Homo sapiens: one gene and its partners. The gene in region 1 interacts genetically with each later gene. Each region holds a gene or a part of one and is shown in the gene's direction. Other genes may lie near its edges. The genes, in order: NRAS, PREX1, ICMT, YKT6, MTOR and GOLGA7.

Evidence for each region.
Region 2: changes in NRAS (region 1) and PREX1 are lethal when combined (synthetic lethality), as found in Homo sapiens cells (one large-scale study listed by BioGRID).
Region 3: changes in NRAS (region 1) and ICMT are lethal when combined (synthetic lethality), as found in Homo sapiens cells (one large-scale study listed by BioGRID).
Region 4: changes in NRAS (region 1) and YKT6 together harm fitness more than expected from each alone (negative genetic interaction), as found in Homo sapiens cells (one study listed by BioGRID).
Region 5: changes in NRAS (region 1) and MTOR together harm fitness more than expected from each alone (negative genetic interaction), as found in Homo sapiens cells (one study listed by BioGRID).
Region 6: changes in NRAS (region 1) and GOLGA7 are lethal when combined (synthetic lethality), as found in Homo sapiens cells (one large-scale study listed by BioGRID).

Annotation. Positions count from the first base shown.
Region 1 is NC_000001.11:114,708,892-114,713,771, reverse strand, and holds part of NRAS (GTPase NRas), read left to right. Parts: intron 1-4,043; coding exon 4,044-4,203; intron 4,204-4,880. UniProt on the Homo sapiens protein: Ras proteins bind GDP/GTP and possess intrinsic GTPase activity.
Region 2 is NC_000020.11:48,821,034-48,825,913, reverse strand, and holds part of PREX1 (phosphatidylinositol 3,4,5-trisphosphate-dependent Rac exchanger 1 protein), read left to right. Parts: intron 1-4,269; exon of another isoform or gene 4,270-4,508; intron 4,509-4,880.
Region 3 is NC_000001.11:6,228,499-6,233,378, reverse strand, and holds part of ICMT (protein-S-isoprenylcysteine O-methyltransferase), read left to right. Parts: intron 1-1,259; coding exon 1,260-1,477; intron 1,478-4,880. UniProt on the Homo sapiens protein: Catalyzes the post-translational methylation of isoprenylated C-terminal cysteine residues.
Region 4 is NC_000007.14:44,207,008-44,211,887, forward strand, and holds part of YKT6 (synaptobrevin homolog YKT6), read left to right. Parts: intron 1-380; coding exon 381-485; intron 486-1,125; coding exon 1,126-1,191; intron 1,192-4,015; coding exon 4,016-4,117; intron 4,118-4,546; coding exon of another isoform or gene 4,547-4,561; exon of another isoform or gene 4,562-4,601; intron 4,602-4,880. UniProt on the Homo sapiens protein: Vesicular soluble NSF attachment protein receptor (v-SNARE) mediating vesicle docking and fusion to a specific acceptor cellular compartment. Functions in endoplasmic reticulum to Golgi transport; as part of a SNARE complex composed of GOSR1, GOSR2 and STX5.
Region 5 is NC_000001.11:11,104,658-11,109,296, reverse strand, and holds the end of MTOR (serine/threonine-protein kinase mTOR), read left to right. Parts: coding exon 1-7; intron 8-1,010; coding exon 1,011-1,116; intron 1,117-1,796; coding exon 1,797-1,812; 3' UTR 1,813-2,762; downstream 2,763-4,639. UniProt on the Homo sapiens protein: Serine/threonine protein kinase which is a central regulator of cellular metabolism, growth and survival in response to hormones, growth factors, nutrients, energy and stress signals.
Region 6 is NC_000008.11:41,493,162-41,498,041, forward strand, and holds part of GOLGA7 (golgin subfamily A member 7), read left to right. Parts: intron 1-4,347; coding exon 4,348-4,500; intron 4,501-4,880. UniProt on the Homo sapiens protein: May be involved in protein transport from Golgi to cell surface. The ZDHHC9-GOLGA7 complex is a palmitoyltransferase specific for HRAS and NRAS.

The DNA of each region.
Region 1 (4,880 bases):
GATGATCTTTGTGTTCTGAATCTTTATGGGGAAATGAGGTTACCACACTAGGGAAGATAGAGCTTTTTAATTATGGGAAGAGTTGGTTTTAGGTTGTTTGACATTGAGAATCTAGGGTAATTACTGAAAGTTAATACTGGAATTTATTTTACATAATATACTGTTACTATAAAGTTTGATAATACATAAGTGAAGCTTGCTACTGGGAATGACTTGGAACCAGAGTTGTTGTAATTAGAGATCACGAAGGAATTTCAGAGAGGAAAACATCTCCAAGAAACATCTTTCAGTATGTAATGGAAAAGATAGGCCAGGCACAGTGGCTCACACCTGGAATGTCAGTGCTTTGGGAGGCCAAGGCGGGAGGATCACTTTCAGCCCAGGAGTTGGAGACCAGCCTGGGCAACAGAGCAAGACCCTGTCTCTACAAAAATAAAAATAAAAAAATTAGTCACACATGGTGGCAGCTACTCGGGAGGCAGAGGTGGGAGGATCACGTGAGCTCAGGAGGTCGAGGCATGCTCACTCCACTGCACTGCTGCACTCCAGCCTAATCAACAGAGCAAGATTCTGTCTCCAAAAAAAATAAAAAATAAAATGATAGGAGTAAGCAAATAGGAAGTCCATAAAGATGAAAACAAAGCAAGGGAACATAAAGATAGACTTTGTCCATAGAACCATAAAGTTTCAAAGCTAGATTGGACCATAAAAATTCTAGTACAATATTCTTATTTTGCAGAATCAGAAACAGAGTTCAGAATGTCGTTTGTTAGGTTTTGGAGTCAGGATTGTTATTAGTAGCAGAGCCAGGACCAAAAACCCAAAGCTCCTTTTTCTTAGCACAGTGTTCTTAAACAGAATAATATAATGGTTAAGAATGAGAACTCTGCCTGGATTGAAACCTAGCTCTGTTTATTAGCGACGTGACTCAGGGGCTATGTGGCTTTCCTAACCTATAATATGGAAATAATAATACCTACCTCATAGAGTTGTGAAGATTACAGTTTTAATAAATACGCAAATCACTCAGAATAGTGCCTGGCACACAGTAAATGCTACTTAAGTGTTCTGCCTAAAGGCTTGAGTCTTGGCTTATTTTCTATCCATGTGAAGATGTCTGCTCTCAAAAGCAGATTGGTCCAACACTGAATTCAAGTGTTCTTTTCCTAACCTGTTGTACTTCCCATTTTTTTTTTGTCTAAAAGTAATAGCAGTACTTAATAAAATGCCCACACTTGGCATGCATCTAATAAATGTTTTTTGAATTTCTAGAAGTCATTTTTCTTCTTTCTTACAAGAAATTTATTCATTTTTCTATATGCCTTAGCTCAAACCAAAGAGTATTTAAAACATCTTATGAAAATGCATATAGTAGAGCAAGATAAGATTAATGAAAAATAGGCTTAAGTGAGACCAAAAAAATAAGGGTAAAATAAACAAATTTAGGAGTGAGCATATTCTGTGATTGTGCATGAAGTTCCAGTGGCTTTCTAAAGGTGGACTACAAATTTGGTCACTGTTGTGAAAAGGAAAGTAGCCAGCTGAAAGATTCAGTATCTGTATGCTGAAAGCCGTTAAGTTGCTCGGACTAGAAGGAAATTTTCCCATGGATCCTCAAAGAGGCTTGTTTAATGTAAAAATCAGTAGTAACCTGACAGTGACATGGTCCAGGTACTTTAGGCTGTCTTATCCCTTAATGTAGGCTATTACCATCAAGCACAGTTTTGCAAATAGCCAGTGGAATGTAGTTCAGATACATGACTTTGTGGGTAATCCAGGGGTAGAGACTAAAACAGTACTGTGCAGTATGTGGTTATTTACAGTTAATTAAGATTAAATAAAATTTAAAAATTAGTTCCTTGACTACCAAATGCTCAATAGCCACTAGTAGGTACCATGTTGAACAGTACAGATATAGACCATTTCCATCATCACATAAAGTACTGTTGGATTGTGTTGGTCAAGACAATCTAAAGCAATTGTTTCCCAGGTGTGCTGTGTGGTGTGCCTTACATGTCATTGAAAGGGGTGCTGTCAGGAGTTCTAGATGCTTCAGCCTCCCTTTACTAAGAGCAGTTCTTATGTTTTCTATTTTATCGCTTGGGCTTCCAGATACAATGTTTTGTTTTAGGTTTGTTTTTTTTGTTTGTTTGTTTTTTTTTTTTTGAGACGGAGTTTTGCTCTGGTTGCCCAAGCTGGATGGAGTACGGTGGTGCGATCGCGGCTCACTGCAACCTCCGCCTCCCGGGTTCGAGAGATTCTCCTGCCTCAGCTTCCCGAGTAGCTGGAATTACAGGCGTCCACCACCATGCCTGACTAATTTTTTTTGTATTTTTAGTAGACTTGGGGTTTCACCATGTTGGCCGGGCTGGTTTCAAACTCCTGACCTCAGGTGATCCACCCGCCTCGGCCTCCCAGAGGGCTGGGATTACAGGTGTGAACCACCGTGCCCGGCCTGTTTTAGTTTTTTAGAGATGGAGTCTCCCTCTGTTGCCCAAGCCAGAGTGCGGTGGCATGACACTCTCAGGGTTCAACCTCTCAGGGATCAAGGGATCCTCCCACCTCAGCTTCCTGAGTAGCTGGAACCACAGGCACATGTGCCACCATGCCCAGCTAATTTTTGTATTTTTTGTAGAAGCAAGGTTTCACCATGTTGCCCAGGCTGGTCTCGGACTCCTAGGTCAAGTGATCCTCCCACCTCAATCTCCTAGAGTGCTAAGACTATAGGCGGGAGTCACCATGCCCAGCTTCATCTACAATTTATTTGAAGAAAATGTTTGAGCACCACCCATCTTGAAAAGTGATAGACTGCCTTCCATTAAATACTGTCACACCTAGTTATTTAGCAGCAGTGAGCTTCACTTTTTATACTTTAGACCTTAATCTAAAGGGTGATTTCTAGTTGCCAGTTAAATCCAGAGCCAAGCTCTTTGGAGAATCCAGGAGCCTCACTAGGTCATGTATCAGGATAAAATACCCATCCACTCCCATTAGAAGGTGAGCTTGTACTTATGGCTTCCTGATGGCTGCTGCAACAAGTCTAAAGCAGTCTCCTTAGTATACAATGTCTTCTCTAAGTGGTAGAAAAAAGCAAAAATACTACAAGTTAATAGGGCTACATAAAATTTGCTAGTTTCTTTTTTGCCCTAGCCATTTATTCCTTCCTGAAATCTTGTCTCTCTCTCGCTCTCTCTTTCTCTCGCTCTCACTTTCTTTCTCTTTTTCTTTTCTCTTTTCTTTTCTTTCTTCCCTTTCTTTTCTTTCTTTTTTCCTGTTGCCCAGGCTGGAGTGCAGTGGAACAATTATGGCTCACTGCAGCCTTGACCTTTCTGGACCCAGGTGATCCTCCCACCTCAGTCTCCCAATTAGCTGGGACTACAGGCATGCGCCACCACACCCAGCTATAATATATATTGTATATATATTTTTTATTTATAAATATATATAAATATATATTTATATGTGTAAATTATATATATTTATATATTATAAATTATATATAAATATATATTTATATATAATATATATAATATATATTTATTTTTATATATTTTATATATATTTTTTGGGGGGGGTTGGGGGGGATGGAGTCTCACTCTGTCGCCCAGGCTAGAGTGTAGTGGCGTGATCTTGGCTCACTGCAATCTTCGCCTCCCAGGTTCAAGCGATTCTCCTGCCTCAGCTTCCCGAGTAGCTGGGACTATAGGCGCCTGCCACCACACCTGGCTAATTTTTGTATTTTTAGTAGAGATGGGGTTTCACCATATTGGCCAGGCTGGTCTTCAACTCCTGACCTTGTGATCTGCCCACCTCAACCTCCCAAAGTGCTGGGAATACAGGCATGAGCCACTGCACCCAGCCTAATCTTTGTATTTTTTTGTAGAGACCGGGTTTTGCCATGTTGCCCAGGCTAATCTCAAACTCCTGGGTTCAAGCAGTCTGCCCTCCTCAGCCTCCCAAAGTGCTGAGATTGCAGGCATGAGCCACTGTACCCAGCCTAATCTTGTTTTTCTTATGTTCTGATAATATATTCCCGTTTTTAGGGAGCAGATTAAGCGAGTAAAAGACTCGGATGATGTACCTATGGTGCTAGTGGGAAACAAGTGTGATTTGCCAACAAGGACAGTTGATACAAAACAAGCCCACGAACTGGCCAAGAGTTACGGGATTCCATTCATTGAAACCTCAGCCAAGACCAGACAGGTATGGTACAGCTTTCAGCATTTGTGCAAGAGTTTGCATCAGTTGATTAACTCTGGTAGAGATGTGATCCATATTCATATTCTTTGTTGTTATGCATTTTTTTCATTTTTATTTTTTTATTTTTTATTTTTTTTTAGGCAGAGTCTCACTCTATCTTCTAAGCTGGAGTGCAGTGGTGTGATCTCAGCTCACTGCAGCCTCTGTCTCTTGGGTTCAAGTGATTCTCCTGCCTCAGCCTCCCAAGTAGCTGGGACTACGGGCACATCATCATGCCCGGCTAATTTTTGTACTTTTAGTAGAGACAGGGTTTTACCATGTTGCCCAGGCTGGTCTCGAACTCCTGGCCTCAAGCAATCCTCCCACCTGGGCCTCCCAGAGTGCTGGGATTACAGGTGTGAGCCACCACGCCCAGCCTGTTGTTAGGCATTTTTAGTAGTGTTCTTTTTCTTAACGCTTGTTTAAACCCAAAATGAACTTACTAATATTCTGTTATGGCATGTTTACTCCTGCATTAACATCCACAAATATTTCTTGGGAAGATCCTTGACTAAAAATATTTATAAACATTAGTTATTTCTCTGTCAACACCAGCCCGTTTATGGCTTAAGCCTCCTGAATGGAGTCTTTAGTTTAATGTAGTTTTGTTCCGTGTTTCTCACATTACCCTTTTCCTTTGC
Region 2 (4,880 bases), on another chromosome or scaffold:
GGATTGGCTTTCTTTCCCATCCCTTCTTCTCTCACAGTTTCGGGGGTGGGGGGTGGGGGAAGAATTTGTTCTGTTAGAAGCTGGCAGTTTTTGAATTAAACATGTAGACAACCCTGGTGTCTCTGAGCAATGTCAAATTCTAGGGAACTCCTGACTTCTCCTTCTGAGCCACTCCATGCTCCTCTGCTTGGAAGAGAAACAGGAAATACAAACCAATTTTGATATTAATGGGAAAGAAAATATACCTCTCCCTCCCACGCCCCTGCCCTAGATGGTGTGTTTCATTTTAGAACAGATCTAGATTGTGTTTGAGTTAACTGTGGTTTTAAATCGTCCACGTGTAGAGTAGGAGGAAGCTGGAATAATGGAAATTGATTGGAGCCAACCATTCTTATTATTCAAGAAACAGGAAAAAAAAAGATTTCTCTACTTTCACATTATCTCCTTAACACTTTACATTTGCTGACTTCATCACATTTTTCTTTTTGTATCTGATGTGTCAGTTCTGAGATGAATTGGTTCTGACTTGGACATGTGTCTTGGACCAATCATGCTACGTGTCCTGACCTCAGTTTCCCCACCTGTGAAACAAGGAGCGGGGAATCCGGGCTTCCTTTCTGCCTGGGCCTTTTGTGTGTCCCCAAGCTGGTGCCAGAAACAGACGGATTGTGTAACCTGACCAGCCATACGTTGTTTGTGAGCCACAGGAGTCCTCTCTCATCTTGGCCCGTCAGGAATGGCCCCTAAACATCCCAAGGCATTTTCGTTTTCAAAACTAACCTGGGGCTTAGAGCTTCAGGAACTGCTAATTACCAAGGCTTTCCATGGTTGCAAGGCTGGCAGCCTCAGGTTGTGATTCTCTTCTGTCTTCCCACTCTCTCTTCTCAGCCTTTATATTTGCTAAGGGATTTTCCCTGCTGTCTCCTGGCTTGGAAGAATGCACGGTAATCCCTCCCTGCTTTTATTTCCATGTGGTTAGAGGCAGGCCTTAAAGGACCACCCTGGTCTCCGTGTGTCCTTGGTGTGAAGGTCCCATCGGCCCATGGAAACCGTGGAAAGTAACCCCCGTGATAGGGGCCATGTGTGGCTTCTGTCCTCAAGGAGAGGACGGTGTAGTGGAGGATGGCCAAATGGGTGTTTAAAAAAAACAATCCAAGTGCAAGGCTCTGGAGCCAGACTGCTTGAGGTTAAATCCTTGGACTTGTGACCTTGGGCAAACACCTTAACCTGTTTGAGCCTTATTTGTAAAAAGAGGGATGTTAATAGGTCCTATTTTATAGGTTTTTAAAGAAGATAAGTGAGTTATAGAAATTGATGTAAAGCACTTAGAACAGTGTCTGGCAGTAAGGTATATAAATATTGGTTATTATTGTTGTTGTAGGAAAATTAAATAATACAGATAATTAGGGTTGTGGGACTTCAGCATCCAGAGAGCAGGGGTGATCAGAGAGGGCTTCCTGGAGGAAGTGAGGTCTGAGTTAAGTCAGCACTGAGAGGAGGATGGGGGCTCTGAGTGAGTTTCCTTTTGACACCCTAAACTCCGGCCACAGGAACCAGTGGTTTTGTTTGGTTCCAGGCCGAGGGCTTTGTGGTTCCTTGAGAATCTTCCCATCTTTCCCCATCTCCTTCAGGAACTGGGTTGCACTCCCTCCCTCATCTCCAGGGAGTCCTCTGAGTTTGGTGTTTTGCGTGTGTTTATTAAATAATCATGAAAAGGCAAGGACAGCCCTTTCACAGAGATGCTGGATCGGTCTTGGGGGAAACAGTGCCTGGGGTTTTGACTCAGAACCTTGGCTCGAATCATTTCGAGGCCCTGGCTATGTGGGGTACTCCCCGTGTGCTCTGGGCAGCGTTAGTCATGATGAAAACAATGACAGTCATTGCTGTGCAGGAACTGACTTTGATTCATCACTTGCCATTCTAAGCACTTTGCATGTGTCAACTCATTTAATTTTCTTTATGAAGGGGATGCTGTTTTTATCCCCATTGAGAGGTGAGGAAACTGAGGCAAAGTGAATCTAAGTGAGCTGCTCTGGGTCAGGTGGACAGCATTGCCAGGATTTGATCCTAGGCTGCCTGACCCCACAACTCATGTCCCCAGCCACTTGATAGACCGCCTTTGGCTGATCCAAGAAGGGCTTGGCACATGATTTATTAAGGTGGCAGAACTGGGATTTGAACCCAGGTCTGTGTGATGTTTCACCTCCGCCTGCGCTTCCTCCTGTTACTTGCCCTCTGTGACTCCCATTCTTTTCTCCACAGAATGGGAAGAACTGTGGACGGATAGAAATGGCAGGCTGCCGAGTTCTTGCTCTGGGCTCCGGGTCTGTTCATGGCACGAGGGTTGAGTGAGGCTCTGGAGTCATGCTGCTGGTGTTCAAATCCAGGCTTCTTCCACTTGGACTGTAGGTGACCTTGGGCTGATCACTGACTTGCTCTGTGCCTCAGTTTCCACATCTGTCCAACGGGCACAGTGTAGCACCTGCGTCACAGGGATGTGGTGAAGCTTGCCCCCCACTCCCCTAGAGGAGGCTGAGTAGACCTTGGGCCCACCTGCCAAGGGGAGGCACCTCAGGGGCAGGTGCCAGTAACTCCCATGATGGGGTGTGTCAGCTGGGCAGTGGTCGAAAGAGAAGAGAGGGCCTGGGTGGGTGGGCAGAGAGGCCGGTGGGTGGGAGTTGGTCAGCAGCTCCTCGAAGGTCTCCCCGTGGCTGAGGACAGAGAGCTATAGAGACACAGAGGGTCTGCCCGGAACCGACCAGGATGGGAGTCTCTGAGGAACAGGGATTGTGGGCAGAAAGCTCCCAGAATGCTTTCTGTGGTTCTGCTTTTTGGAGGGAGGAGACAAAAGTTTTTCTTCTCATTGGAGCTCCGCTTGCCAAACAAGAAACTGTGGTTTTTTGTTGTCACTATTTTTTTTTCTGTTTTAAAAGATTCTGTACTCCTAGTCTCACACTAGGGAGAAATGCCACGGGTGGTTGGGGTGGGGGCAGGTCTTTGATTTCACAGTCATTGAGGCAGAGGGACCTCCCCAGTAACTTGGGGGGATTTTCACGTGGTCCTCATATGAAAAGTAGGATGCTGAGAGGTATATGTAACACAGTTCTTTTGGAAAATAAACAATAACCATAATATACACGTGTGTTATATGTATAAGGTGACATTAGGTTGGAGAAAAGGATGGAAGGATGTGTATCTTTTACAGAAAGGCAACCAGGAAGATAAGGAAGTAAAATCCTGTTTATAATACCCTTTTCATATAAAATTATGCATATGTATGCGAATATATTTTTTAAGAAGCCGACAGGAAGAATTGTATTTTCAACATGGTTATTAGATTAATGCAACAGTAATAATGGTAACAATTTGCTAATATTTATATACTTGCAAGCCCTGTTTATAAGTTCCTTAAGCATTAACTCAAAAGTTGCAGGTATTCTTATGCTTCCTGTTTTACAAATGAAACAAAGACACAGAGAGGCCAAGTCAGTTTCCCAAGGTCACACAGCCTGACAGAACTGGCACTTGGACCCAGGTAATGCGGCTGCATGGCCCACATTCTTCACCACTATCCTGAATTGCACCAAAATGAGGCTGTGTTCATGAGCAAAATTACTGCCCCTGTGAGACCTCTGGGCTGCCCAGGTGGGCAAGAATTAAGTCAAAAAGTCCACCTTATTTCAGTTTTCAGATGCCGGAGAGCCTGGAACAGGCCACCTTGTGTTGGGCTCATCATCATCAGGAAGTCAGTGAAAATCTTTTGATGGTAAAAACTGAGTGTCAGCAGGATTTAGATGGGTTACATTTTTTTTAATGTATGGCAGACAGAGAGCTCTGTACAGATAAAACCATGAAGATATGAGACTGCTTTTCTCTGTGTGCAGGTATTTATGGAGCATCTGCTGTATATCCTGGGCAGTGTTCTGGGCCACGAGAATGAAGTCATCAACAGGTCGTTGTCCTTATAAGAAGGACAACCCTGTGGGGATTCTACAACTCATTCTTCAGACAAACCTTCTGGAAGCCTACCTACTTTTATTCTGGTGTTTGCCCTGGTAGCAATTTAACTGTCACTTTAAGAAGACGCGAATGGGGTTGGTGTCTCTGGCTTTTGAGACTTCAGGGCACCCCTTTCTTGGAGAGAAAGATACTCCTTTATCAGGCCAGAGAGCTGAAGACCTGTTGGGCTTGGGGCCACTCCCTTTAATAAAGAAACCCACATCCTATTTGCTTCACAGCCGCTCTCCCTTAAAGGTTTTGCAAGAGTTTAAGTGTTTGAAGCAGGTCATGCCTGGCTGCAGGAGAACCTGACCTCTCCAGATTTTTGGGGCTTTTCTTTTTTTCCAACAGACACAGGCATGCTGGCTAGAATACTGGAGGGAGGTGGGTGATAGGGTGGGCTGCCCCTCAAACCTGTGTGCTGTGTCCCACAGCATCATTCCCCAGACATGGGGCCAGGTCGGAGCTGATTCCTGCCCTGCGTTTCGGAGATCTTGAACAGAAGCCAGGTGGGTCATTCGGTCTGAATCTCCTTGTTTTGCAGGTGACATAAATTGCGTCCCCAGAGGGGAGGTGAGCACCAGTTAAGGGCAGTAGCCACTCAGTTTGTTAGAGTTCCATCCCCAGATACCTGGGAAGAGAGCTTGGTGGCCCACATCCTTTTCTGGGGATCTGTGTTTTAGCCAGGATCAAAAATCCCCCCGTTTTTTTTTAAGATGGAGTCTTGTACTGTCGCCCAGTCTGGAGTGCAGTGGCGTGATCTTGGCTCACTTCAACCTCTGCCTCCCGGGTTCAAGCGATTCTCTTGCCTCATCCTCCCGAATAGCTGGGACTACAGGCACGTGCCACCATGCCCGGCTACTTTTTGTATTTTTTTAGTA
Region 3 (4,880 bases), about 110 Mb from region 1:
CCCCAAGCGATTTTCCGCAGACCTCTATCCTCACTAAGCTATTTATAAAGGATGAGCTCCGCTCATGAATTCTGCCTCTGGATATTGACTCGAGGACGTGCTGACCTTTTGCTTTAAAGTTTGCATCACATAGTGCACCATCTAATTTGAAGCCCCAACCTTGAGTAGTTGTGATTCTAATTTTATAATCAGATGATATTTAGACGTTTCATGTAAGAGTTTACTGGCCGGGCACGGTGGCGAACGCCTGTAATCCCAGCACTTTGGGAGGTCGAGGCGGGTGGATCACAAGGTCAGGAGTTCGAGACCAGCCTGGCCAATATGGTGAAACCCCGTCTCTACTAAAAATACAAAAAAGCCAGGCGTAGTGGCACATGCCTGTAATCCCAGCTACTCGGGAGGCTGAGGCAGGAGAACTGCTTGAATCCGGGAGGCGGAGGTTGCAGTGAGCCGTGATCGCGCCACTGCACTCCAGCCTGGGTGACAGAGCGAGACTCCCATCTCAAAAAAAAAAAAAGAGTTTACTAACAAGGTCGGGTGCAGTGGCTCACGCCTTTAATCCCAGCACTTTGGGAGGCCGAGGTGGGTGGATCACATGAGGTCAGGAGTTTGAAACCAGCCTGACCAGCATGGTAAAACCCCGTCTCTACGAAAAATACAAAATTAGCCGGGCCTGGTAGTGCATGCCTGTAATTCTAGCTACTTGGGAGGCTGAGGCAGGAGAATTGCTTGAACCCAGGAGATGGAGGTTGCAGTGAGCTGAGATTGTGCCATTGCACTCCAGCCTGGGCAATGAGAGTGAAACTCCGTCTCAAAAAATAAAAGCCTCCGTATGTGGAATGCACTCTGAAATTGAATGTCTCACAGCCAATGAAATGAAATACATGTGGCTCCTGGGATTCAGGGTGGAAACCTTGGACCCTTTTTTGCTTCTCTTAGCTATACTTGTCCCCAGATGAAGGACTGAGCATGTGGCCGGGGGTCGTGAACCAGAGAGCCCATCAGCTGTAGCAGGAGAGCATCTCTTTACCATGATGCTTTCATTGTGCTTATTGGTGTTTTAAAGTAAATTGATGAACAGCATAACTTAGGGGAATGTGTTTTCTTATGAAATTTTAATGTGATGACAAATGCTGATTGCCCAGCAGCACATTTTCTGTTTCTGTCTTCGGGAAAATAGGTTAATTTTAAGCAGTGCGAAGGGGAGCTCAGGCCAGTGTTTTCACTCCCCGTGTGTCGTTGATGTCTCTCTCCCACAGAACTGAAGCAGATTACCTGGCTCAGTGTCACAGGGCTGCTGATGGTGGTCTTCGGAGAATGTCTGAGGAAGGCGGCCATGTTTACAGCTGGCTCCAATTTCAACCACGTGGTACAGAATGAAAAATCAGATACACATACTCTGGTGACCAGTGGAGTGTACGCTTGGTTTCGGCATCCTTCTTACGTCGGGTGGTTTTACTGGAGTATTGGAACTCAGGTATAATATTAAATATGACACTGCTTTTCTTTTTTTTTTTTTTAAGTAACATTTTAAACGTGATATTCACGTAGCATAAAAGTCACCATTTCAAAATATACAATTAGTGGTTTTCAGTGTATTCATGAGGTTGTTGGTCTCCTTTAAATAATAGGTACATGTTCTTCTTGGCGCGTTTCAAGTGATAATTTAATAAAAGTCAAGAGAACTAATGTAGTCCTTAATGCTTTTCACTATGTGCCCAGAACCTGGGTGCGTAAGTCCTTGGTGATTCTTGGTGCTGTTAGCTACCTGCTGTATCCCTTCATCCTGTTTCTGCCTCTGTTTGTTTGTTTTCTTTTTTCTTTTTTTTTTTTTGGTAGAGACAGGGTCTTACTGTGTTGCCTGGGCAGGTCTCAAACTCTTGGCCTTAAGTGATCCTCCCACCTCAGCCTCGCAAAGTGCTAGCATTATAGGCATGAGCCATTGTGCCTCTCCCTTTCTCTGCCCCTTCAACCTATTAATAGATCTGAAGCACCCCAGAGGGGGTGAGGACAGAGATGGGGCTTAGGGAAGGGAGTGCCCTCTGTCACTCATGTGGCAGCTTGGCTAGTTTTCATCAGAAATAGGTATTAATGGGGCCGAGGCCATGTGTTAGTGAGCTGTGTGAGCCATGGAGGTTTGTTCTGTCTCAGGCTGAAGAAAAGGCCTTGTTTCGTTTCTTTTCTTTTCTTTCTTTCTTTTTTTTTTTTGAGACCTAGTCTTGCTCTGTTGACCAGGCCAGAGTGCAGTGGTGCGATCTTGGTTCACTGCAACCTCTGCCTCCCAAGTAGCTGGAACTGTAGGCACGAACCACCATGCCTGACTACTTTTCGTATTTTTTTTGTAGAGACAGGGTTTCTCGAGTTGCCCAGAGCCATCTTGAACTACTGAGCTCAAGCAGTCTGCCTTCCTGGGCCTCTCAAAGTGCTGGGATTACAGGCTTGAGCTACAGTGCCTGGCCTTTTTTTTTTTTTTTTCCTTTTTGAGATGGAGTCTCACTCTGTTGCCCTGTTGCCCAGGCTGGAGTGCAGTGGCATGATCTCAGGTCACTGCAACCTCTGCCTCCCAGGTTCAAGCGATTCTCTTGCTTCAGCCTCCTGAGTAGCTGGGACTACAGGCGCCCGCCACCACACCCGGCTAATTGTTTGTATTTTTAGTAGAGATGAGGTTTGACTGTGTTAGCCAGGATGGTCTTGATCTCCTGACCTCATGATCTGCCCGCCTCGGCCTCCCAAAGTGCTGGGATTATAGGCATGAGCCACCGTGCCCAGCTTTTTTTTTTTTTTTTTTTTTTAAAGACAGGATCTTGCTGTGTTGCCCAGCCTGGAGTGCAGTGTTCTGATCATGGCTCACTGCAGCCTTGACCTCCTGAGCTCAAGTGATCCTCCTACCTCAGCCTCCCAAGTAGCTGGAATACATTACAGGTGTTGCCACCACGTCCGGCTAATTTTTAAATTTTTTGTAGAGGTGGTTCTCCTGGACGGTTGCCTGTAATCCCAGCACTTTGAGAGGCTGAAGTGGGTGGGTCACTTGACATCAGGAGTTTGAGACAAGCCTAGCCAACATGGCAAAACCCCATCTCTATTAAAAATACAAAAATTAGTTGGGCCTGGTGGCACATGCCTATAGTCTCAGCTACTCGGGAGGCTGAGACCTGAGAACCGCTTGAACCTGGGAGGTGGAGGTTGCAGTGAGCTGAGATTGTGCCACTGCACTCCAGCCTGGGTGATGGAGTGAGACTCTGTCTCAAAAAAAAAAGAGATGGTTCCTCCTTTGTTGCCCATGCTGGTCTTGAACTCCTGGGCTCAAGCCATCCTCCTACCTTGGCCTTCTAAAGTGCTGGGATTAGGCCAGGCATGGTGGTTCTTACTTATAATTCCAGCTAGTCGAGAGACTGAGGCACAATATTTGCTTGAACCTGGGAGGCAGAGGTTGCAGTGAGCTGAGATCACGCCACTGCACTCCAGCCAGGGTGACACAGCAAGAATCTGTCTCAAAAAGAAAAAAAGAAAAAGAAGTGTAAGGATTATAGGTGTGAGCCACTGCACCTGCTCTATGTGTGTGTGTGTGTGTGTGTGTGTGTGTGTGTGTGTGTGTATTTTTTTTATTTATGTATGGTTTTTTGTTTTGTTTTGAGGCAGGGTCTCTCACCCAGGCTATAGTGCATTGGCATGATCATGGTTTACTGCAGCCTCTACCTCTTGGGCTCAAGTGATCCTCCCACCTTAGTCTCCTAAGTATCTGCCCAGGCTGGAGTGCGGTGTCACAATCTCGGCTCATTGCAACCTCCGCCTCCCGGGTTTGAGTGATTCTCCTGCCTCAGCCTTCTAAGTAGCTGAAACTACAGATGTGTGTCATCACACCTGGCTAATTTTTGTATTTTTTAATTAATTTATTTTTTTGAGATGGAGTTTCACTCTTGTTGCCCAGGCTGGAGTGCAATCATGTGATCTCAGCTCACTGCAACCTCTGCCTCCCGGGTTCAAGCGATTCTCCTGCCTCAGCCTCCTGAGTAGCTGGGATTACAGGCATGCGCCACCATACCCGGCTAATTTTGTATTTTTAGTAGAGACGGGGTTTCTCCATGTTGGTCAGGCTGTTCTCGAACTCCCAACCTCAGGTGATCTGCCTGCCTTGGCCTCCCAAAGCGTTGGGATTACAGACATGAGCCACCATGCCCAGCCCCTGGCTAATTTTTGTATTTTTGTAGAGACGGGGTTTTTCCATGTTGCCTAGGCTGGCCTCGAACTCCTGCGGTTGAGTGATCTACCCGCCTCGGCCTCTCAAAGTGCTGGGATTACAGGCGTGAGCCACCACATGTATTTCTTTTTCTTTCTTTTTTTTTTTTGAGACAGAGTCTCACTTTGTCGCCCAGGCTGGAGTGCAGTGGTGCGATCTTGGCTCACTGCAACCTCCACCTCCCGGGTTCAAGTGAGTCTCCTGCCTCAGCCCCCGCGAGTAGCTGGGATTACAGTTGTGCACTACCTCGCCCAGCTAATTTTTTGTATTTTTAGTAGGTTTAGTAGGGGTTTCACTGTGTTGGCCAGGCGGTTCTCAAACTCCTGACCTCAGATGATCCACCCGCTTCAGCCTCCCAAAGTGCTGGGATTACAGGCGTGAGCCACTGCATCCAACCCGCATATTTCTTTTTTAAAATTACTATTTGGCTAGGCACAGTGGCTTTGGGAGACCAGAGCAGGAGGATTGCTTGAGGCCAGGAATTAGAAACCAGCTTGGCTGGCCGGGCATGGTGGCTCATGCCTGTAATCCCAGCACTTTGGGAGGCTGAGGCAGGCAGATCATGAGGTCAGGAGATCAAGACCATCCTGGCTAACACAGTGAAGCCTCATCTCTACTAAAAATACAAACAATTAGCCTGGTG
Region 4 (4,880 bases), on another chromosome or scaffold:
GTGGTTTCTTAAATCTAGGGGACCTAATTCTCTTTTTTAAAAAATTGCTTTGGAAAATTAGAGGACCAGTGCCCCTTTTTTCTGGAAATCTGTAGTTTAAAATTCAAATACCTTTATTACTCCCCAAGTGAGGTTCATCTCGGGCTGGGCATACTTTTGATTCTCAGAATATTTAGGATATGTTTTAATGATAAAAATTTGGAAAGAACTTTAGCCTAGATTTTCTCTGTTGCCATTATATGTCCCCCTCATTCCTCCTTCCTGGGCTGTGAAGGCCAAGGAGCCTCATTCAGGGTGAGGTGCTCAGGGGTGAAGCCCTGTCATTGAGACCACTGGTGAGTGCACAGTGGGAGGCTTGTTGAGTCTCCTTTGTCTTGCAGGTACTAGATGAATTCTCCAAGCAAGTCGACAGGATAGACTGGCCAGTAGGATCCCCTGCTACAATCCATTACCCAGCCCTGGATGGTCACCTCAGTAGATACCAGGTAGGGTTAAAGGAAGCTTCAGCAGACACCATGTGGCCCAGAATCCATGTGAAACTGAAAAAGCCAACTGCCCTGATAGTTCTGGTCTAATTACTTCTGACAGCTTCTGATGCTGGTGTCCTCTCTCAAGCCTTACTGTTTGGAAAACAGAGAATCTACGTTCAGACCGGGGAACCCAAGCTCTAGGCAGGCTTTGGGTTTCTGTTACATGTTAAACAGGCTGTGGGTTTTTTTTTTTGTTTTTTGTTTTTTGAGTTGGAGTCTCACTCTGTTTCCCAGGCTGGAGTGCAGTGGCGCAATCTCGGCTCACTCAACCTGCACCTCCTGGGTTCAAGCGATTCTCCTGCCTCAGCCTCCCGAGTAGCTGGGATTACAGGCATGTGCCACCACGCCTGGCTAATTTTTGTATTTTTAGTAGAGACGGTTTCACCATGTTGGTCAGGCTGGTCTCGAACTCTTGATCTCTGGTGATCCACCCGCCTCATCCTCCCAAAATGCTGGGATTACAGGCGTGAGCCACTGTGCCCGGCCCAGGCTGTGGTTTTTAACCTGTGAAAGTTTGTCCAGCTTCCTCAGTTTTAGGTTTTGTTTGCAGGTAGCCACTCCAGTCCTGACTTTATTATTTTTCACTCTTTCCTAGAACCCACGAGAAGCTGATCCCATGACTAAAGTGCAGGCCGAACTAGATGAGACCAAAATCATTCTGGTAAGCAGGAAGATGGAGAGCAAGCCCAAGAACTGAGGCGGGGGTGCGATTTCCACTGGCCAGGCATGCACAGATCCATCCTCGTTTTAATATAATAGTAACCACGGCACTCTCCAGCAAGTGGGATTGCCCACCCCTTCCCCCACCCCGGGCATCAGACTGTCTTTCCTATACCCTTCTCTTGGTTAATGGCACCCATTGTTTCTAGGGGACCAAGCTGGGAACCAGTGGAACCCTCAAGTCTCCCTTCCTCATGGCTACTGCCTGTCTGACCATTTACTGGGTTCCTAGGGTTTGGCTTCTGAAGACCTGGATTCCCACCCTGGTGCCTTTGTTAGGGTTTCGGGTGCCTCCACACCCCACAGGTGCCTCCCCTTGCAGCGTTTGCATTGAAGGTGAACAGATTGAAGCACCGTGCACTGACCACAGGGCAGCTTCTGGAATATGGGCCCAGGGTTGTCACATAGGCCCCTTTGAAAAGAGCCAGAACCCTGCATTTTGAGCTGAAATCTCCTGATTTGTAACTGTTGCTTCAACTCTTTTTTTTTAAATTTTTGCATACAAGTGGAATGTAAGCAGCTATCTGTTTTTCTCAGGTTTTTCTCTTACAGCCTTTGCCTCTAAGTGGTCCCCTTGCCTCCTGCTCACCTCCAGTCTGTCCACCAGAGAGTAGTCATTGATCTGCACAACTTAGAACCCTTCAGCAGCTCTCAGATCCGCCCCAGGATAAAGTGCAAACTAACTCACAGTCTCCTGACTGGGCCCTGTTCTCTCTTATACCCTTTCTTGCCCAGCTCACACACAGGCGCCTGAAGGTTGGGCCTTTCTGACCAGATGTCACAGTTTTGTCACTGCTTGTTTACATGTCTCCCTGACCAGCGTATGAGCACTGGGACATCTTTCCATCCTGCTCATGATACAGTGCCTAGTTTATACCATGCTCAGCAGTTGATAGATACCTGGAGTGGATTGAAACCCACATACAAAGCTTTACCATTTACACAGGCATAGCTTTAGTGTGTACATCAGCGTCTCCTGGGGTTGGAGTTGTTGGCCTGCGATGGAGCCTGGGAACCTGCATTTTATAAAAAGCATCCCAGGGGCTTCAAACACAGGTGTGCTGACTGCACTCCAAATAACGTGGCTTTGGAATGAACGATAGATGTGAAAGTCTCATGGTATCTGTGTCTTTTGAAACCTTGTGAGCTTTCTTACCACCTAGGTGGCATTTCTCCGTTTTCTCCTCAAGCCATCTCTTTCTGTTGCTCAAGTCCTAGTCTGAGTACCATGACACCTGGGACACCCGCTGTTTCTCCTCTCCCCACGGTGGGGAGTGGATGAGTCCTATTCACCCAGCCTCATCTAGCTGCAGTTGTAAAATCTAGATGATTGGTGTGCATATCTGAATCAGTTAACTTTCTGTGTTAAAAATTTGAGTCGCTCAGCTGTGTGTAGGGATGAAGGACATTCTTGCTGGCTCCTTGTTCTATGGCGCTTCATGTGTGCATCTAGCTGCTGCAGCAGTGGCCATCTGAGGAGAGAAGCGAGCTGCTGCTTCCTGAGGGCCCTGGCAGCAGAGCTGCTGGCTCTTGTGAGGTCTCCATCTCTAGACCCCTTCCCATGGGGTCAGTGTTTTCATTTCCTAAGTCAGAGTTTGTAGTGATGACATTTAGGACATAGCCCATTTAGAAGGCAGGACATGTTCTGTCATAGTGCTGTCTGGTATATATTTGGGGCATGTGTGTAACTTAGAATTTTCTAGGAGCCATATTTTAAAATGATAAAAGGAAAATAGGTAGAATTTAATTTAATTATATATTTTACTTAACGCAGTATATCCAAATACAATTTTTCCAACATGTAATCGGTATAAAACTTGTTTTTTTTTCAGTATAAAACTTACTAATGAAGCATGTGTGAGTTTGCATCTGAAATCTGGTGTGTCTGTACTCAGAGCGCTGCTCAGTTTGGACTTGCCTCACATCAAGTGCTCAATAGCCATTTCCCACCGCCTTTTGTTTCCTGTGGCTGCTGTCAACAGAAACCCTCAAATATTTGCTTTTAACAGATAGCTCTGTGGGCCTGGCTGGTGTCTTTTGGGGCTCTGAGTGTCTGTCCCAGGCCTCTCTCCAGCCTCTGGTGGCTGCTGGCCATCCTTGGCATTCCTTGGATTAGAGGTGCATCACTTCAGGCTCTGCCTCTGCCGTCACGTGACCTTCTGTGTGTGTGTTTCCGTTTCTTACCAGGACATCAGTCATGGAATTAGATGCCACCCTAATCCAGTATTACCTCTTCCTAACTAGTTACATCTGCCAAGACCCTATTTCTAAATATGGTCACATTCAGAGATTCTGGGGATGTTAATTTCTGGGATGCGGTTGGGGTTGGGGGGTGCGGTGTGGGTCACTCTCCAACCCAGTACAATCATATAGTGCCCAGCTACTCTTTTTTCCAAAGCTCCATGCACACGCACATGTGCGTGCACACACACACACACACACAAATGTATATATAAATGTGTGTGTATATATATATATGAGTTTTCCTGGAGTGCTGGTTATCTAAGCCTGTGCTGGGGACAGCTTTTTGGGAAGTCTGCTACATCCCAGTTAGATCTTCTAGATTTCACGGGAATGTCACCAGGTTCTGTTCCATCCACTTGGACAGTAACTATTCTTGGACCGAGTCTCGACACCTAGAGGTGAAGTTTGTGTGTGTTGGAGAGGAACCCAGGTAAGGCACTTTCCCCCATGACTGAAATATGAGGGGCTCATGTCAGGGCACGTACTGAACAGAGCTGGATTCTCTTTTCTTTTTTGTCCAGCACAACACCATGGAGTCTCTGTTAGAGCGAGGTGAGAAGCTAGATGACTTGGTGTCCAAATCCGAGGTGCTGGGAACACAGTCTAAAGCCTTCTATAAAACTGTGAGTACCCAGCACCTGCTGCCTCCTGGGTGTTCTCTCTAGAGAGCAGTCGCAGCTTGCTGCTTCTGGCACTCTCCACTATGAACGGGTCTTTCTTAGACTGTTGAATCATGGTGGATGATTCCTTGTGCGGCAAGAGCCTAAGGTGAGCGCCTCAGGCCCAGGTGGTTGGAGGCAGTTCACTTGGGCGCCGTTGGAGTCGATGCGGGCCGAGGCCTTGTTCCACTCCTGCCTCTGCTCTGCCCTCTGCTGCTCTGGCTGATTTCTGAACTCCTACTCCCAGTCCAGGAAGGCTGGTTCAAGTTCTGATCACCAGAGATTTACTGTTGAATCTTATTCCTCTTTCTGCTGAGTAGACATAAGTCTTTAAGATGCAAGCAATTCAGCCTTCCTGAAGAGGTTCTTAAGCTTTTAATTTCCCTTTGACAGAAAATATTTAATTGACAAGGATGGGTGCTGCTGACTGCCGCTTTCTCTCAGGTCAGTGCTCATGTCTTCCTATGTGGAGATGGCACTGTTGGCCCATGGTTGGATAGTCATAGGGACAAATTTACTTGGTCTGTCCACACACATTTGCTTTCATGTGCACATTGGAGGGAGATGGCTAGGTGGGATTAGGAAGATAGTCTGTGACCAGAAAGCAAGAGAGAAGGTGGCAACAGTGGTCCCCACAAACCACATCCCAAGTGGGAACCACATCTGTTGTCCTCAGGACCATCTTCTAGGAAGAAACACCACCGTGGTGGTCAGATAGCATTGTGTG
Region 5 (4,639 bases), about 100 Mb from region 1:
CTCACTGGTGAGTGTGTCATGTGTTTACTTAAAAGGGACATAAAATCTGAGCACACTTTCCTCTCTGAGTGGTGGTCAGCCCCATGTCCAGTGGTGTTAGTGACGAGCTTTGGCACCATGCAGCTGACAAAGAGTGTCTTTGAGGTCATCAGTTAAACATTGTCTCTGATTCTTCTTTCTGATGACTGATAACAGTACTTAATGTTAGTTTAATCTCATTTAACTCAGGAGGTGAATAAATTTCTTTTGGGTCCAAAATCAGCCAAATTCAGAGAAGTGTTTTTTAATCATGTCTTTTTTTTGTTTGTTTGAGACAGTTTTGCTCTTATTGCCCAGTCTGGAGTTCAGTGGCTCCATCTTGGCTCACTGCAACCTCTGCCTCCCAGGTTCAAACAATTCTCCTGCCTCAGCCTCCCGAGTAGCTGGGATTACAGGTGCACGCCCAGCTAATTTTTTGTGTTTTTAGTAGAGATGGGGTTTCACCATGTTGGGCAGGCTGGTCTCAAACTCCTGACCTCAAGTGATTCACCCACCGCACCCGGCCGAATTTTTCTTTTTTTCTTTTCTTTTTTTTTTTTTTTTTTGAGACAGGGTCTTGCTCTGTCACCCAGGCTGGAGTGCAGTGGTGCGATCTTGGCCCACTGCAACCTCCACCTTCCAGGTTCAAGTGATTCTCCTGCCTCAGGCTCCCAAGTAGCTGGGACTACAGGCATGTGCCACCACACTCGGCTAATTTTGTATTTTTAGTAAAGACAGGGTTTCACCATGTTGGCCAGGCTGGTGTTGAACTCCTGACCTCAGGTGATCTGCCTGCCTCAGCCTCCTAAAGTGCTGGGATTACAGGCGTGAGCCACCGCACCTGGCCAAACTTTTCAAATCCAACTATGATGGTATCCTTCATCTTCATGTCTGACGATAAGCTGTTGGCATAGACAGTTAAGCCCACAGGGAACAAGAAGTGCATCGATTGCCAGGAAGAGAGTGAAATGTTTTTGTTCCTCCTGTGCTAGGTCGGGACTTCTCTCATGATGACACTTTGGATGTTCCAACGCAAGTTGAGCTGCTCATCAAACAAGCGACATCCCATGAAAACCTCTGCCAGTGCTATATTGGCTGGTGAGTGGGGCTCTCAAAGTGACTTTGTTAAAATAAGCAATCAGGTCCCAAGCCTAGGCCCCAAAGCCAGAGTAGCAAAAAGAGATTTGGTGAGGTATCTGTAAAGGGCAGTTAGAGCTCAGATCTCTTTAAAAATTCATATTTACTGCATGTGCCCATTGTTATAAAAAAAGAAACTGAGAAATATGGATGCATACTTGGAAGGCAAACACTAAAATTAAAATTACATTAAGATAAGTGGTTCAGGAGAATAGGCAAGGCTTGTTTGTTTGTGAGGGGTTCCTTTTGGGTTTTGCTGTCAGTCCAGTGCAGAGATACAGGAAGGGCGAAGGAAAGAAAAAGCTAGAGCAGTGACAGAGAGAAGGAGATAAAAAGACAGATTTATGATCTGGGAGTCTAACCTCAAGGGCCACTCTGGGGTGTGCTTTGATTAATTGCCCAAGGCATGCTTGAAGGCAGAAACTTGAGAGAGCGGGCGCTGGGGAAGTGTCCTTGCGGGACCTCGGTGGGCATTAGCCTTGACTGGAAATGATGAGTGTGTCCCATGCAATTAGCTGTGGGAGAGCTCAGGGAATACCCTAGGGTTGTCAGACCTTGGCCTTTTCATTTTCAAGTTATCTGTGTAAACCTTTGAAGAAGCTCAAATTATTAAAATATTCCTTTTCTTTCTGCCTTCTTAGGTGCCCTTTCTGGTAACTGGAGGCCCAGATGTGCCCATCACGTTTTTTCTGAGGCTTTTGTACTTTAGTAAATGCTTCCACTAAACTGAAACCATGGTGAGAAAGTTTGACTTTGTTAAATATTTTGAAATGTAAATGAAAAGAACTACTGTATATTAAAAGTTGGTTTGAACCAACTTTCTAGCTGCTGTTGAAGAATATATTGTCAGAAACACAAGGCTTGATTTGGTTCCCAGGACAGTGAAACATAGTAATACCACGTAAATCAAGCCATTCATTTTGGGGAACAGAAGATCCATAACTTTAGAAATACGGGTTTTGACTTAACTCACAAGAGAACTCATCATAAGTACTTGCTGATGGAAGAATGACCTAGTTGCTCCTCTCAACATGGGTACAGCAAACTCAGCACAGCCAAGAAGCCTCAGGTCGTGGAGAACATGGATTAGGATCCTAGACTGTAAAGACACAGAAGATGCTGACCTCACCCCTGCCACCTATCCCAAGACCTCACTGGTCTGTGGACAGCAGCAGAAATGTTTGCAAGATAGGCCAAAATGAGTACAAAAGGTCTGTCTTCCATCAGACCCAGTGATGCTGCGACTCACACGCTTCAATTCAAGACCTGACCGCTAGTAGGGAGGTTTATTCAGATCGCTGGCAGCCTCGGCTGAGCAGATGCACAGAGGGGATCACTGTGCAGTGGGACCACCCTCACTGGCCTTCTGCAGCAGGGTTCTGGGATGTTTTCAGTGGTCAAAATACTCTGTTTAGAGCAAGGGCTCAGAAAACAGAAATACTGTCATGGAGGTGCTGAACACAGGGAAGGTCTGGTACATATTGGAAATTATGAGCAGAACAAATACTCAACTAAATGCACAAAGTATAAAGTGTAGCCATGTCTAGACACCATGTTGTATCAGAATAATTTTTGTGCCAATAAATGACATCAGAATTTTAAACATATGTATATGAGTGGCGTTTTAGTCATAATTTTGATCAGTTCAAAAAGGAAGCATTTACTCTCTTCAGCACTCAGCCTTCAGTAAACACTCTGTAGTAGGGATGACAGAGGACGTAAGGGTGTACGTGACATGGTCCCTTTCCTCAGACTGTTCCCAGGCCAGACAGGTGGAGACAGCATGCCACTGAAGTGAACAGAACTTACCCCGGCCAAGTGCTGAGAAGAGGCATGTATGGGCCACAGGTAGGAGCGTGTATTCCACCGGGTGAGCCTGGAAAGCCCCATAGAAAGGGGGACATTTGGCATGGGTCTTAAAGAGGGGTGGGAGTCTGTCAGATGAACCAAGGGGGGGGCATTCTCAGCAGAAAAGGAAGTGTGAGGCACTGCTGTAAAAGCAAGGTATCCATAGCAGTGGCAAGTATCAGTTGGACCATTTGAAATCACAGGTACGTGGACCATTTTTAATATACAAAACTGGCATTTTCTTATGGCTGCACCTCATAGTTCAGCATGTCTGGCTCAGTGGTCAGTGGGGAATAAAGGGAGTAACAGGAAAATAATAGGAACTAAAGGAGGCAGGAAAGCAGTACGGGGCCGGGGCCAGACCGGGGCCTCCCTCAGTTCAGCAGCAAGGAGTATGAACCTGATGCTGTGAAGTTTTAAAACGGAGTAGTATCTGAGTGGTGTTTTTTGTTTTTGTTTTTGTTGGAGACTGGGTCTCGCTCTGTCACCCAGGCTGAACTGCAGTGGCACAGTCATGGCTCACTGCAGCCTCGGCCCCCTGGGCTCAGGTGATCTTCCCGCCTCAGCCTCCCAATTAGCTGGGACTGCAGATGAGCACCCCCACCGCCAACTAATATTTGTATATTGGGGGAAATTCACCCCCGATATTTCACATAGGTTCTTTTCTATATTCCCTAAGTGTCAGCCGGTCTGAGAAAAGGGACAGAGTACAAAAGAGAAATTTTAAAGCTGGGTGTCCAGAGGAGACATCACATGTTGGCAGGTTCCATGATGCCCCCCTGAGCCATAAAACCAGCAAGTTTTTATTAGTGATTTTCAAAAGGGGAGGGAGTGTACGAATAGGGTGTGGGTCACAGAGATCACGTGCTTCACAAGGTAATAGAATATCACAAGGCAGTGGAGGCAGGGCAAGATCACAGGACCGGGGCAAAATTAATATTGCTAACGAAGTTTTGGGCACGCTTTGTCATTGATAACATCTTATCAGGAGACAGGGTTTGAGAGCAGACAACCAGTCTGACCAAAATTTATTAGGCGGGAATTTCCTCGTCCTAATAAGCCTGGGAGTGCTATGGGAGACTGGGGCTTATTTCATCCCTACAGCTTTCACCATAAAAGACGGCCGCCCCCGAAGCAGCCATTTCAGAGGCCTACCCTCAGGGATGCATTCTCTTTCTCAGGGATGTTCCTTGCTGAGAAAAATAATTTAGCGATATTTCTCCCATTTGCTTTTGAAAGAAGAGAAATATGGCTCTGTTGTGCCCAGCTCACCGGCGGTCAGAGTTTAAGGTTATCTCTCTCGTTCCCTGAACATTGCTGTTATTCTGTTCTTTTTTCAAGGTGCCCAGATTTCATATTGTTCAAACACACATGCTCTACAAACAATTTGTGCAGTTAATGCAATCATCACAGGGTCCTGAGGCAACATACATCCTCATCAGCTTATGAAGATGACGGGATTAAGAGATTAAAGTAAAGACAGGCATAGGAAATCACAAGGGTATTGATTGGGGAAGTGACAAGTGTCCATGAAATCTTCATAATTTATGTTCAGAGATTGCAGTAAAGACAGGCGTAAGAAATTATAAAAGTATTAATTTGGGGAACTAATAAATGTCCATGAAATCTTCACAAT
Region 6 (4,880 bases), on another chromosome or scaffold:
AGAAAAGCTTTGATTGTCTGTGTATGTGTGTTGAGATTAAATTTAAATTACAGGTTTAAACTTTCCTTGCTTTGATGAAAAATTGAAAGGTTTCTGTTTCTCTACTACTTACCCTAGAAATTTTACTGATTGCTCTGCTATTGGAGCTGATTTTCCTTTTGTGAGAACATCACACTTGGCAACATAATAGAGAAAGTGACTAATATGCAAGTGTTTTGTATTATTTTAAAGCATTTTTTAAAAATACACACACATTTGTGCCCTTTAATTTGGGAGTAGGATAGGTTCTGTCTGTTAACAAGTTCATTTTCTCTGCTGCCTTTTAGAATGTAATACTTTGATGCTTAAGCGATTTGTTGCCAGAACAATTCCTTAAAGGAAACTTTATTCTCATTAGCCTTAAAATACAGATATCTTAGTTACCCTTGGTCTGGGTAGAAGAATGAGTGAACTGTAATTGAGGCATTTTTTCCCTTTAAAAATATGTCTCCCCATCTGGTTAGTAATTACCTTTGACCTGCCACCCTTGATACGTGATCACTGCATGCTTCACCATGCTTTCTACTGTGTAGTTCACAGTAATTCTGGGAAAATAAGCCTGATTTCTCTTTCCATTCTGATTTTTGATGTTTGTGGGTCCAAATTTTATTTGGCTGTGACTTCTCATATATCTAAATTTTGATAGAGCTCCTGTATCAGTGTCCAGGAACCTAAGGGAGAACACTGGCCACTGTTATTCATAGCCTAAAGGTAGTAAGATACAAATGCCAACATTTGTTCTCTTGAGCCCTTTCTTGTGAAGTTTGTCGTTTGCCTTTATTGATGCCTTCTGTGATTTTTACCCTTTATTTCCCTTTTTTAAAATAACCTTTCAAAAACTTGTTGGCATTTACTTTTCTTTAACCATTTATCCTTTCTTTTTCTTTTTTTATTAACCTTTTTTTGTTTGTTTGTTTAACTGACGTATGATTTACCTCTAACCTATAGGGCATTGTAATCTCGGAATAACGCATAAGAATTAAGTGTTTCTGGCTGGGCATGGTGGTTTGCACCCAAGTAATCCCAGCTGCTCTGGGGGTTGAGGTAGGAGTATCCCTTGGGGCCAGGAGTTCAAGACCAGTCTGGGCAACATAGCGATACTCTGTCACTAAACTTAAAAAATAATAATAATTAGGGTTTCCGGGATAAACAGTAATTCTGATATGAAAGAAATAAGATGTTTCTGGGTTGAATCCCATGGTTTTGAATTGTATTGTAAAGAAATATAAATAATTCAATGACTTATAACATAGGCACATCAAATGTGATTGGAATTATTTAGACTTTTGTAGACTTATCGGTGGACAAACTGAAGGCATTAACGTAGGCATAATTAGGTGAACGTAACAGCTTACCATTTTTGTTTGCTGAGCTCTCCTCAGTCTGTTTTCGTGAATGAGAACTCACAGTTTCCCAGATGACCAGCCTTGACACCACATCTACAAGGGGTAGCTCAGTGAAGAAACACTGCCCCTGCGTTTAAAGGCCGTCTTGACCCACCTAGCCTTTGTCCAAATCTCTAATATTCCTGGAAATTTAAAGTAACTCCTTTTGAAAAATGGGTAGAGCCAACACCACTTTAAAGTTTGCATTAAATTCATGCATGCCACTAGCCCATTGACTCCTCACATTTTCCACACAACGGACAAAACAATGACTACAACTGCTTCTAACTTAAAGAGTTGTCATAGCTTAAGGATGGTCATGAATTGTTTTACACTTTAAAAGATTATGTTCTTGAGGCCAGGTGCAGGTGGCTCTTTGGGAGGCCAGGGGGGTGGATCACATGAGGCTAGGAGCCTGAGACCAGCCTGGCAACATGGCAAAACCTCGTCTCTACTAAAAATACAAAAATTAGTAGGGAATGGTGGTGCACGCCTGTAATCCCAGCTACTCGGGAGGCTGAGACACGAGAATCACTTGATCCTGGGACCAGAGGTTACAGTGAGCCAAGATTGCGCCACTGCACTCCAGCCAGGGTGACAGAGTGAGACTCTGTCTCAAAAAAAAAAAAAAAAAAAAAAAAGATTACATTCTTGGGAATAGTGAATAGTAGGGCTCATACTGTATGTTGAGGGTTTTTTTTCTTTCTTTCTTTTTTTGAGACAGGGTCTCACTCTGTCACCCAGACTGGAGTGCAGTGGTGAGATCTCAGTTCACTGCAACCTCCACTTCCCAGGCTCCAGCAATCCTCCCACCTCAGCCTCCTGAGTAGCTAGGACTATAGGCATGCACCACCACGCCTGGCTAATTTTTGCATTTTTAGTAGAGACAGAGTTTCACCATGTTGCCCAGGCTGGTCTCAAACTCCTGAGCTCAAGTGATCCACCCAGCTCAACTTCCCAAGTGCTGGGATTACAGGAATGAGCCACCACGCCAGCCTGATTTTTTTTTTTCTGAGTCGGTTTCTATTATAAAGAAAGATTTAATAGGTTCACAGAGACAGGAAAGGAGAAAAAAAAAAAGCCAAACAAAAAAGTCTTTTAAATAAGGACTTCATAAAAGAGAGAATTCATACGTAAGTAGTTATTAATTTTAGAAATAAGGGAATCCTTATGCGAGAGAAGGCCTAGAGTGCAGACAGATAAGAATGGCAGTATTGGATGATTGCTCTCCTAATGGGCCTTGAAAGTCCTGGGATGAAGTAGCAAAATTTGAAATCTGTTATACAAAGTACTATTAGAAGACAGTAAAGTAATATTGGAAGAATAAAGTAAAAGCAGATGATTGAGTGAAACAATGGATGACAGTACAGGTTCTTTCTTATGTGAAATATGTGGAACCAGAAGTATTTCAGTTTTTGGGGTTTTTTTAGATTTTGAAATATTTGTTTATACTAATGAGATATCTTGGGAATGGGATCCAAGTCTAAACACGAAATTCATTATGTTTTATATCCACCTTATACATATAACCTGAAGGTAATTTTATACAATATTTTAAATGACTTTATGAGACAAAGTGTGTGTACACTGAACCATCTTATCACCCTTTGTGAGCACGCTTGCATGGGAGAATCTGGCTGTGCATGGAAAAGATACATGGCAGCTGATGGGGGCTGGAAGGGTCTTTTTCTCTTGGGGACACTGAATAAACTATGTGTTGTGCGCCTGCATTTTGACTGTGACCCCTCACATGAGGTCGGGTTTGGAATTTCCCACTTGTGGTATCATGTCAGTGCTCAAAAGTTTCAGATTTTGGAGCCTTTCTGACTTCAGAATTTAAGATCAGGGATGCTCAACCTGTGGTAGTATTAGTGTAAATTTAAGATAATGGTGTCACCAAATAGAAAGAGGTAATAAGAATGACTTAATGTGAAAAATTGTTTATTAGCTTGAGATTTTACCTTAACAAATTTTACCTTATTTAGTAACAAGATAATTGCTTCAAAAGAGATAGGCTGAGTAAACAGAATATAGAACCTACGCCTTTTGATCCTTCTGCTAAAATGCCATTTTTTTTTTTTTTGCCTAGTAAATTCCAGTCTTTAGTTACTCAATTTAAGATTACCTGCCCTTCCCAGATAAAGGGAATTTCTCCTTGCTTTTGTGTCCCCACTAGGCTTTATATTTGCCTATATGATAGTACCCTGTCAGTTTATTGCTTTTTTTTTTTTTTTTTTTTTGAGACGGAGTCTCGCTCTGTCACCCAGGCTGGAGTGCAGTGGCGCAGTCTCGGCTCACTGCAAGCTCCACCTCCCGGGTTCACGCCATTCTCCTGCCTCAGCCTCCCCAGTAGCTGGGGCTATAGGCACCCGCCACCATGCCCGGCTAATTTTTTTTGGTATTTTTAGTAGAGACGGGGTTTCACCATGTTAGCCAGGATGGTCTCCATCTCCTGACCTCGTGATCCGCCCACCTCAGCCTCCCAAAGTGCTGGGATTACAGGCATGAGCCACCGCACCTGGCCAGCTTACTGCATTTTTATGTTTACATTGCCTGTTCTGCTTGCATAATTAAACTCTTAAGGATTGAGACAGTGCTTTATCTTGAGATTTTTCATAGTATCTGATAGTAGGCGCTCAGTAAGTGTGAAACTAAATGAATGGAAAGAGGAATAGAGCCTAAAGTTACTTGAAATTTAGTAGAAAGAATAAAGAAGTACCTTATTGAGCCTTGAAGCTATCCAGTATTTATAAGAGGGATAAAATTAAACAAATTAAGCAGTTTTGGTAACTTAGGCCCAGATTTAGTCACCAAAAAAATTGTCAACTAAGAATGGTGAGAAAACAAGATAAATTAATGATAGCATGCATTAGTTGATTTTTTTTTTCCAAAACTTAATTTTTAAATATTTTCTTCTCTACAGATTGATAGGCAGCAGTTTGAAGAAACAGTTCGAACTCTAAATAACCTTTATGCAGAAGCAGAGAAGCTCGGCGGCCAGTCATATCTCGAAGGTTGTTTGGCTTGTTTAACAGCATATACCATCTTCCTATGCATGGAAACTCATTATGAGAAGGTAATGCTACATTTGTTTTCACAAAAATCTCTTAAAATCATGAAGAAGGCAAGTTTATTACACATTGATGCTTACATGGTGATAGTTGCCGTAAAATATTTAGGGGCATTTATCATTCAAATTGTGTTGTTCCTGTGTACAGAGGCACATAGTCCTGAGTCTTTCAAAACAGGTTGCAGTTGGTATGTCCACTTGCAGATGATGTGTCAATGTTCAGACTGGCCTACACTTAAGAAGAATGTAGAAAATCTATATGTTCTCTTCCTACTCAGCTTTCTGGGAATGTTTTTACTTTATTTCCCTAAATTTCACTCTCTTCTCCCACCTGAGTTCTTACTTTCTCTTTCCAGCTGCCTACTAGCTCCCGAATTGCTGATTTC